Linked DNA regions of Homo sapiens. The protein of the gene in region 1 purifies or fractionates together with the protein of each later gene. This does not show direct contact. Each region holds a gene or a part of one and is shown in the gene's direction. Other genes may lie near its edges.

What was found. The genes of interacting proteins can lie anywhere in the genome.
Region 2: the proteins of TFRC (region 1) and CD9 purify together in Homo sapiens (co-immunoprecipitation; 2 studies listed by IntAct). This does not show direct contact.

What each region holds. Positions count from the first base shown.
Region 1 is NC_000003.12:196,057,397-196,062,585, reverse strand, and holds part of TFRC (transferrin receptor protein 1), read left to right. Parts: coding exon 1-4; intron 5-2,338; coding exon 2,339-2,406; intron 2,407-3,953; coding exon 3,954-4,012; intron 4,013-4,220; coding exon 4,221-4,302; intron 4,303-5,189. UniProt on the Homo sapiens protein: Cellular uptake of iron occurs via receptor-mediated endocytosis of ligand-occupied transferrin receptor into specialized endosomes. Endosomal acidification leads to iron release.
Region 2 is NC_000012.12:6,227,442-6,232,272, forward strand, and holds part of CD9 (CD9 antigen), read left to right. Parts: intron 1-4,831. UniProt on the Homo sapiens protein: Integral membrane protein associated with integrins, which regulates different processes, such as sperm-egg fusion, platelet activation and aggregation, and cell adhesion.

The sequences.
Region 1 (5,189 bases):
CTTGGTAAGTATCCCTTTCATTAGCTGTGTATGAATTCAGGTAAACTTTTTTGAGATGGAGTTTTGCTCTTGTCGCCCAGGCTGGAGTGCAATGGCACGATCTCGGCTCACTGCAACCTCTGTCTCCCAGATTCAAGCGATTCTCCTGCCTTAGCCTCCTGAGTAGCTGGGATTACAGGTGCTCACTACCACACCCAGCTAATTTTTTGTATTTTTAGTAGAGACAGGGCTTCACTATGTTGGCCAGGATGGTCTCGAACTCCTGACCTCAGGCGATCTGCCTGCCTCGGCCTGGGATTACAGATGTGGGCCACTGTGCCTGGCCAGATAAACTACTTTGAAGTGGAAGAAAGCTTTTTTTTTTTTTTGAGACAGGGTCTCACTGTATTGCCCAGGCTAGAGTGCAGTGGCACAATCTTGGCTCACTGCAGCCTTGACCTCCTGGGCTCAGGTGATCCTCCCACTTCAGCCACCTGGCTAATTTTTTTTGTAGAGATGGGGTTTTGCCATGTTGCCCAGGCTGGTGTCAAACTCCTGAGTTCAAGCATTCTATGTCAGCTGCCCAAAATGCTGCGGTTACAGGCATGAGCCATTGCCCTCAGCCTGTATCTTAACCTTCCTTTAAATAGTCTGTCAAGTTACACAGTGAGCACAATTGCTTGTCTAGAACAGTGGGTAGTTCTCAGTGTGGCCCCCAGATGAGTAGCATTAGGAACTGTTACGAATGCAAACTGTCATGTCTACCCCAGACCTTTGAGTCAGAAATGGGAGTGTTGGTCTAAAAACTGGGCTTTTTGGGCTGGGCGCAGTGGTGCACGCCTGTAATCCCAGCACTTGGGAGGCCAAGGCAGGCGGATCACCTGAGGTCAGGAGTTCGAGACCAGCCTGGCCAACATGGTGAAACCCCGTCTCTACTAAAAATACCAAAATTAGCCGGGTGTGGTGGCGAGTACCTGTAATCCCAGCTACTCAGGAGGCTGAGGTAGGAGAATCACTTGAACCCGGGAGGCAGAGGTTGCAGTGAGCCAAGATGGCGCCATTGCCCTCCAGCCTGGGCGACAGAGCGAGACTCCATCTCAAAAAAACAAACAAAAAAACTGGGCTTTTTTTTTGGCAACCCTTGGGGAATAAAAACCTATTATTTTCTTAAGGACAAAGTATCCTGAAGCAAAAAAACCCAAACAAAGAAACAAAAAACTTTAACAAGCACTACAGGTAATTCTGATGGACTAAAGTTTTAGGACCATAAGTCTGGACTATATTGAGGTGAGAAGAAACTAAACTATGCCATATAGAATGGTACTTAGAGAGTAATTCACATCCTGTTACGTTGTGGCATCACTGATAGAAATATTGGATAATGAAACTTCTAGAAGAGTTTGAATGTTCACTGGCAGCAGAAAATTGACAAAAGGGTTTGAATGTTATTTAAAGTGCAGCTGTACATTCAACAGGAATGGGGTAAAAAAGAAAGTGCAGATGTAGCTGATGAGCTGAGAATAGTGAAATGTCTACATGGGGGAAAAAAGGAAAGAGTTACAATTAAACCTCTCTAGGTTAGTTATTTCCCTGTTGTATGTTTGCCGCAGAATGTGCTGAGTATAGCAAGCATACTATGTATAGCTCTAACCTGGGTGAACCAGAAAGTTAAACATGAAATTGCTAATGGGGGAGGCTGCACATGTGTGGGGGCAGTGGATTTATGGGACCTCTAGGTACCTTTCTCTTAATTTTGCTGCTGAACCTAAAACTGGTCTGATTTTTTTTTTTTTTTTTTTTTTTTTTTTTGAGATGGAGTCTCGCTTTGTCACCCAGGCTGGAGTGCAGTGGCGCCATCCCAGCTCACTGCAAGCTCCGCCTCCCGGGTTCATGCCATTCTCCTGCCTCAGCCTCCCGAGTAGCTGGGACTACAGGTGCCCGCCACCACACCCGGCTAATTTTTTGTATTTTTAGTAGAGACGGGGTTTCACTGTGCCAGCCAAGATGGTCTCGATCTCCTGACCTTGTGATCCACCCGTCTGGGCCTCCCAAAGTCCTGGGATTACAGGCGTGAGCCACCGTGCCCGGCCTAACTGCTCTGATATTTTTAAAAAAGGTGACTTGGATTAAAGTATGCAAACTCAAGGAGTAGTACGAGCCCACTTGAGTGAAGTTAGCTTAGTTGCTAAAGAGCTTGATACCAAAATTACTTTTGTTTACTTGATGAATGGGATAGTTGTTGCACAGGGCCACTGATCTAGATTACTGTCTTATTTGTCAAGTACTTATAGTTGTAGAAGTAGCAGTGTGAAAATTATCGGAATGGAGAAGGGGCAATGATAAAACAATTTATTTTCAGGTACCAGCAACTTCAAGGTTTCTGCCAGCCCACTGTTGTATACGCTTATTGAGAAAACAATGCAAAATGTGAGTATATACCTCATTACAAAAATGTATGACTTAATTTTTGTTGAATCAACCTGAGATAAAAAACACTGATATGTAAACCGTAGTCAGTAACAAAAAATAGGAATTGAGAATAAATTTTATAGCAGCGTTATTTAAGGGATACTTGCCTATTGAACCATATGAGATGAGGGCTCCAATCTTAAAGAATATGTTGTTTATTTAGGAATATATAACAAAATGCCATGAGGCCTAAGCTGTAGTGCAGGGGCCCACAGGGGATTGTCTATAGAGTCACAATGCTAAGGAAGGCTTAAATCAACTTGAACTATACTTTGAGAAGGCCGGAGGAAATATTCATTGAATAAACAATTACCATAGTTTTGAATGAGGGAGAGCATGTGAAAGAAAATATTTGCCTATGTGGGGTGGGGGGAGGGGAGAGGGATAGCATTGGGAGATATACCTAACGCTAGATGACGAGTTAGTGGGTGCAGTGCACCAGCATGGCACATGTATACATATGTAACTAACCTGCACAATGTGCACATGTACCCTAAAATTTAAAGTATAATTAAAAAAAAAATAAATAAATAAATAAAAAAGAAAATATTTGCCTAATGGGATTAGAGGCTGTATATTGGAGTGAGTAAAGTTAGAAACAGGTCAGATAGCAGACATTGGCCTTGATCCAAGAGATACTAGGGATTATAGGATCTCAAGCAAGGTGATCATGAATTTGCCAGTTAGGTTGGTGGCATAAGATGCACTAGAAGGAAGAAACCAGAAACAAGATAGGCATAGTGTGAAGCCCAGAGAGGGCTTTTACAATTGTGGGTAAGCCACCATGGTTTTGTTTGTTTGTTTGTTTGTTTTTGAGATGGAGTCTTCCTCTGTCTTCCTCCAGCACTCAGGCTGGAGTGCAATGGTGCGATCTTGGCTCACTGCAGCCTCCACCTCCTGGGTTCAAGCGATTCTCCTGCCTCAGCCTCCTGAGGAGCTGGGACTACAGGTGCACACCACCACACCTGGCTAATTTTTGTATTTTTAGTAGAGACGGGGTTTCACCATGTTGGCCAGGATGGTCTCAATCCCTTGACCTCATGATCTCTTGACCTTGGCCTCCCAAAATGCTGGGATTACAGGTGTGAGCCACCGCGCCCAGCTTTTATTCATTTTTTTTTCCTTTTTTTTTTTTAAGAGATAAAGTCTTGCTGTGTTGCCCAGGCTAGTCTCAAACTTCTGGGCTCAAGTGATCCTCCCAGCTCGGCCTCCCAAAGTGTTGGGATTGCAGTTGTGAACTACCCCACCCGGCCTAGGCCCACTTTTAAAATGTTAATTAAGAAGAAAACATTTTTTCCTCACCATAACTAAAGGAACTGACAACATGAGCCTAGTTAGTAATAACTTAAAGTTGAGATTGTTTTAACTATCATAAATAATTTCTTTTCAAGAAGATATAATACAAGTTTTTTATTTAAAAATTGTTATAGAGTAACATGTTAGTGACTAGCCTGAATAAATAAGTTCCAAAAGGTTAGTTTTAATGATAATTTCTTATCTTACAGGTGAAGCATCCGGTTACTGGGCAATTTCTATATCAGGACAGCAACTGGGCCAGCAAAGTGTAAGTTGAGAAAAGTGAATGAACAAACTAATAGAAAAGCAGAGATTCTACCTACTACATTAGGTAGAATCTAAATCTGTCCTTGCATTGAACTTACTTACACCTAAAGATATTCAGCTAAAGAATTTATTTTGGATGGGGGGACTAGCACGATAGAACAGTCTATTCTTTAAAACACTTTCTAAAGACACATTCTTTGTCTTTGCAGTGAGAAACTCACTTTAGACAATGCTGCTTTCCCTTTCCTTGCATATTCTGGAATCCCAGCAGTTTCTTTCTGTTTTTGCGAGGTAAGTCTGTTCATTTAAATGACAAATGGAGAGAGGCTCTCTAAAAGGAAGTGATCTGTATTTGGGAATAGGGCATTGCAATGGGAATGCCTGTGCTATAGTCAACTATGTACATATTCAGAGGAGTAAAGGAAAACAAGTTTTTAAGGACAAATGACGAGGATTACAAAATTACTTTGAGGTAATTATTCTTGGCTACCAAGATCAATAACAAGGATGACACCAGTCCAAGGTTGACAGGCAGTTGCTAGGCAGATTTTCTCACGAGAGAAGTTTTTTGGTGCAAGGTTGCAGTGGCCTTTGTGTAAGGTTGTAGTTTTTGTAAAAAGGAAAAAAAAAAACCCTTAATCCTTGTTATCAGACATACAAGGGTGAGACCCTTCTCTTCAGGGTTGCATTTTTGTTAACACTAGTGACTCCATTTTGATTTTGACAACTTGCACATATCTTAGTTGTTGGGTTTTTTTTGTTTGTTTTTTGTTTTGTTTTTTTTTTTTTTTTTGACAATGGTGACTTGCTCTGTCACCCAGGCTGGGGTGCAGTGGCCCGATCATGGCTCACTGCAGCCTCAAGCAGTCCTCCCCCTTCAGCCTCCAAACTGTTTGGATTATAGGCAAGAGCTACTTACTACACCTGGCCATGGATCTTCTTGTGTCAACTTTGAGACCAAATTTACTGCAGTGCTTAAAATGTTTTAAGAAGTTATACACATGTGCTGGATGTGGTAGCTCACGCCTGTAATCCTGTAGCAGGACAAGCCGCAGACAAATCCCCTCAGACACCGAGTTAAAGAAGGAAGGGCTTTATTTGGCTGGGAGCTTTGGCAAGACTCACGTCTCCAAAAACTGAGCTCCCCGAGTGAGCAATTCCTGACCTTTTTAAGGGCT
Region 2 (4,831 bases), on another chromosome or scaffold:
CCCGTCTTGGCTTCCCGAAGTGATGGGATGACAGGCGTGAGCCACCTCGCCCGGCTGGAAGACACTAACATTTTTGAGCCCCCTTCTTTGTGTGTCATTCATTGTCTTGTGTGTATTATATAATTTAATCCCCTTAGCTCTACGAGGAGTGTGGAGTGATTCTCATCTCACAAGTGCAGAAACCGAGGCCTAGAGAGCTGAAATAACTTGTCTAAGCTTATATTCCCTCAAGAGGCAGGGCCAGGTTTTGAACCCAGGCCTAAAAGAGCTGCTTCTCGGGTTGTCATTGCCAGGTTGTGGGGTCTCCCTCTGTAGGAATGGAAGAGGTCTGTACTGGCTGAATGTGCCCCATTGGCAGGGATGGGGTGGCGCTGTCTTGGCCCTTTTACTTCACCCAAATTGCAGTCAGGGAGAGAAACCCCTGCGTCGGTGGCCCAGCCAGCAGCTGACAGGTGGGAAAGCTGCAGGGTGGCAGGAGAATGGTGAGTGCCATTAGAGGAGCTGGGGCTCACCTCTGGGAACCTCACAGGATTCAGATCCTGCAGGTCATTGCAGGGCCCTGCTGGTGGCCGGTGGTCCTACCTGAAGTGACCAGGAGGGTGATTTGAAGGCACAACCCCAAAGAGACACAGATCCCCTAGTTGGGGTCTAAGGGCCACTGTCCACTTAGCTCTGCCAGGGAAATACAGATCCTTTGCAGCGACACCCCATTCGGGGAAGAGAGCGGAGCTTTGAAGACTTCGTTCTGCCTGCAGAAGCGCCGGCAAGGGGGATGATGCACGGTAAAGTTAGAACAGCAGCACTGTGTCTGGGCACAGTGATCAGCCCTGATCTCAGGTGATCCGTCCGCCTCAGCCTCTAGCACTTTGGGAGGCCGAGGCAGGCAGATCACCCGAGGTCAGGAGTTCGACACCAGCCTGGCCAACATGGCAAAACCCCACTTCTACTAAAAATACAAAAATTAGCTGGGCGTAGTGGCGTGCACCTATAATCCCAGCTACTCGGGAGGCTGAGGCACAAGAATCTCTTGAACCTGGGAGGCAGAGGTTGCAGAGAGCTGAGATCACACCACTGAGGCTCTGTCTCCAGCCTGGGAGACAGAGCGGGACTCCATCTCAAAAAAAAAAAAAAAAAAAAAAACAGCAGCACAGCACTCTGAGCACTGCTTAGGTCTGAGCTATGCCCTGAACGTCACTGAACGCTTTAGGAAATAATAATTGTCGTCCATGGGCAAAGGGCCAAGGAGGCGTCGCTCTGTGTCCCCTTCCCCACGAGGCTGTGAGACCAGCCTTCTGTACTGGCCCAGAGCCCTTCTCCTAGCAGATGAGCTTGGAGTGCCAGCCACACCCTGGCTACTTTTCCAAGGAATAGTCATGGGGTGACCGCCCCTTGCACTGGGCCACCAACTGTCTGCAGAGCAACCCACAGGCCAGCCTGACCATGCAGCTGACTTTTCAGGAAACCTGAACAGCCCAGGGGTGTCTTTTCTCCAGTGGGGCCACAGCTTACCAAGTAGAGAAAGAGTATATAACCAGGCAGAAAAGCAAGTGAAAACCTTTCCAACATTCAGAACAGTCTATGGTAAGTCCAGAGCAGCTGACAGCCTTATATGGGCCTTCTCTCCAATCCAGGCCTGGAGATTCAGCCCGTCAGCAAGATCCCTAATCCCAGGCTGCAAACTTGTTGGGGAACTTCATTTTCTTGGTCCTAGGCCAGCAGCCTTTCCCAGCTCCCTGGTGTCCCTCCAGAACCATGGCTGCTGAATGAGGGCATCTAGGGGGGCTCCAGCCAGAGGCCGTGAATGCCCCCCCTTCCTCGGCCAGCCCCCTATCCATGATGAGGTGCCTGGTGATTTTCAGGACACGCGACACTTGGCCTTAGTAAGCTGGCATCCCCATCCTGGCTTGTGACCTGGGGCAGTTCATTTTATTGCTCTGGGCTTCATTTTTCTCCCTCCTGAAACCAGCACAGCTTACACAACCACAGCACAGCTTACACACCCACTCCCCTCTGGGGCAAAGAAGTACAGCGTGTGGCAAATGGAATTCCATTGTGGCACTTATTCCCGTGAACTCGGGAGGGCGGGAACCAAGACGAAACCAGTCGGGGCAGAGGTAGGGCTCCTTTGAACACCTGGTGGAGTTATTTGGATATAATAAACTTTTATTGCAGGCCAGAGGCCCTACCGGATTTTGTTCTCCTTCACACAAACGGGCGTGGTGAGTGCTGTTTGCAGGACAGAGCTGGTGTAGGGACGGGAGCCTGCTGTGTCCTCTCCCTGGGCTAAACTGAGAGCCCTGGTGAACAGTGAAAAACACTGTTCCATTTCTTGTGTAAAGGACACGCTGGCATATGCTACTGCTGCTACACCAGCCTTTCTTTTTTTTTTTTTTTTCTGGGCCTGTAATGTCAGCCTGAAAAAAGCAGAATAAACAACCCTTAAGCAAATTAATACCGTAATCCTAGAGAAGGCTCTGTGATGGATAACTTTTTCCATGAGTCAGACAGCAAGCTAACATTCGCTTGTTTTATAAAGGGGAACACTTTGTCATTTATCAACAGCAGCCTTGGCTAACAAGCTTGGGGTGTAAGCGATGAGTAGCTTCTCCAAAGGGAAGCACTGAATAGCCCTTGTAAAAACCAGCCCGAGCCCTGCAGTGGTTCCGTGACTTCCATGGGGCCTGCTTCCAGATGAGCTGTCCTGTAGCTTGCCGGCTGCTGCTGAGTCCCCGAACACAGCTGCCAGGGGATCGCTTCCCTTTTCCCGTGACTAGAGAGGGCTAAAGCTAGGCACTGCAGATCCGTAGCCATCCACGCAAGATTTAAAGCCCACAAAACCCGTGATCCTAAAATCTTCCTCTGCTGAGCCCTAGCATGAATATTTAATATTAACCACAAGCCCCATTAGGAGCATGTTCTCTTTCTCTGCGTGGGAAATACTTTCTCTTTAGTAGCTCACTTGCAGCTAATCCAATTCCCTTGGCCTCTGCCAGGACCGCCAGGTTCAAGAACTGGGATCTGGACTTAGAGAAAACATGTCTGCCTGTTCGTTCCCACTCCACGGTATTTCATGTGTTTGTAAATCCTTTTGATCTCTTAATACCTCCTGTTTATTCAGCCCCTGCTATGGAGCTCAAAGGAGTGACCTCATCCTTCCTTGACTTGCCCCCATTAGATGGGGAGAAACTGGGGCCTTTCTACTGTCCCCATGTGAGAGAACCAAAGGAGGCTGCCCTCTTACCCAGTGCTCCATGCATGGGGCTGCACAGCCTCCCCAAGCCCAGCTTGTGGCCTCAACAGCGTTTGACTGCCCAGGAAGATGCGACCTGACTTGAGGACAAGCTACATTTGTCCCCTTGCCCAGTGTGGGCCAGGCATGCACAAGAACAATACCCATATTCTTGCAACATGGGGTTTGCCAGTAACCCCACGTGACTTGACCTCACGACGGATGTGGGGGAGAAGGGGGAGGAACAAACGCTCTCTGTGTGCATTCTGCTCTGTGCTGCCCGTGAGCCTCAGCTGCGGGCAGACTGCATGGTTTGTTGCCTGCAAAGTCTCACCCCTGCTCGGGGTGCAGATGTGGGACAGTGAAGTCAGCGTGTCACCTGCCGAGGGTTCTCATCGAGTGTCCTGCTGTGTATTGTGGGGAAACATCACAGACTTTCTCTCTCGCGTGCGTGTTTTCAGCCCCTACATCAAGGATATCTCTCTGGTCCCAGTGAAAGGACAGTAGGGATACAGCAGCAGGTTAAAATTCACCATGGTGATTATTAATGATTGTTACTCATGCTTGGTATAATTGAGATTAACAACAGCTAGCATTTGTTGTGCACATGTGGATTATATCACTTAATCCTCACAGCAATCCTGGAAGTGGGCATTATTGCTACTCCTGTTTTACAGATAGAAAACTGTTGCACAGAGAGGTTAAGTGGCTTCCCCAGAGTCACAGATCTGGTGCTCTCGACATGTGACAGTAGCCTCTCCCAAGGCTAGATAGAACATGCCTGCAAGACAGGGAGGCACAGAGACTTTGCTGCTGGTTTTCCTTTGGGACCCATGTAGGGCTGGGGTGCTGATTAAGGGAATAGTCCCTGCAGGACAGCTGTGGCTTCTCAAGAATAGAACTGTGGGGTGGCCCCTCTGGGCATTCCTTTGGTGGGTTGTGGAACGAATGGGGCCAGTGCTGCTCTACTGTTTGTGTCCCAGGAATTTGCATTGTTCTGGGTTTGGGCAAAAGTTATAGAAGTTGCTGCCCTTCTCTCACCTCCTTTCCATGAGCCACTCAGATCAAGGGCTTAGTAATGGTGTCACTCATCCTCTCCTTAGCAAGGAGGAGCCTCTTCACCCTTAACCTGCAATAACTGAGTTATGACTGTTAAGATCTTGTTAGCATGCTATAGAGATCTTTTGAAATTTCCAGGAACATACCTCTTTAATTTTACTAGTAAGGAAATTGAGGCCCAGAGAGGGAAAATGTCTTACCCCAGGTCACACAGCAATTAGCATCAGTGTTAGGGCCAAAAGAAGGGTCTTCTGACACCCAGATCTGTGTCCTTTGCACTAGAGTCAGGTATTGGACCTTTGCCAAGAGGTGCCTTTGGGTGTTCCTAACTGTATGTGCCTAACCACCACCCAGCAACAGGGCAAAGAGGCCCGCCTTCTGGGAACAGGCAGAGTTGGTTCCCCCCACCCCTGGGTAGGGGGGTGCCTAGGTGTGCACGGCCCCTTCCTGCTGGAAATCTGCTCTGACAGCGTCCTCTGTAAGGCAGGGTCCCAGAAGTTAGCCAGAGTGTGGAAGGTATATGCTAACTAGCTTGAGTGGATT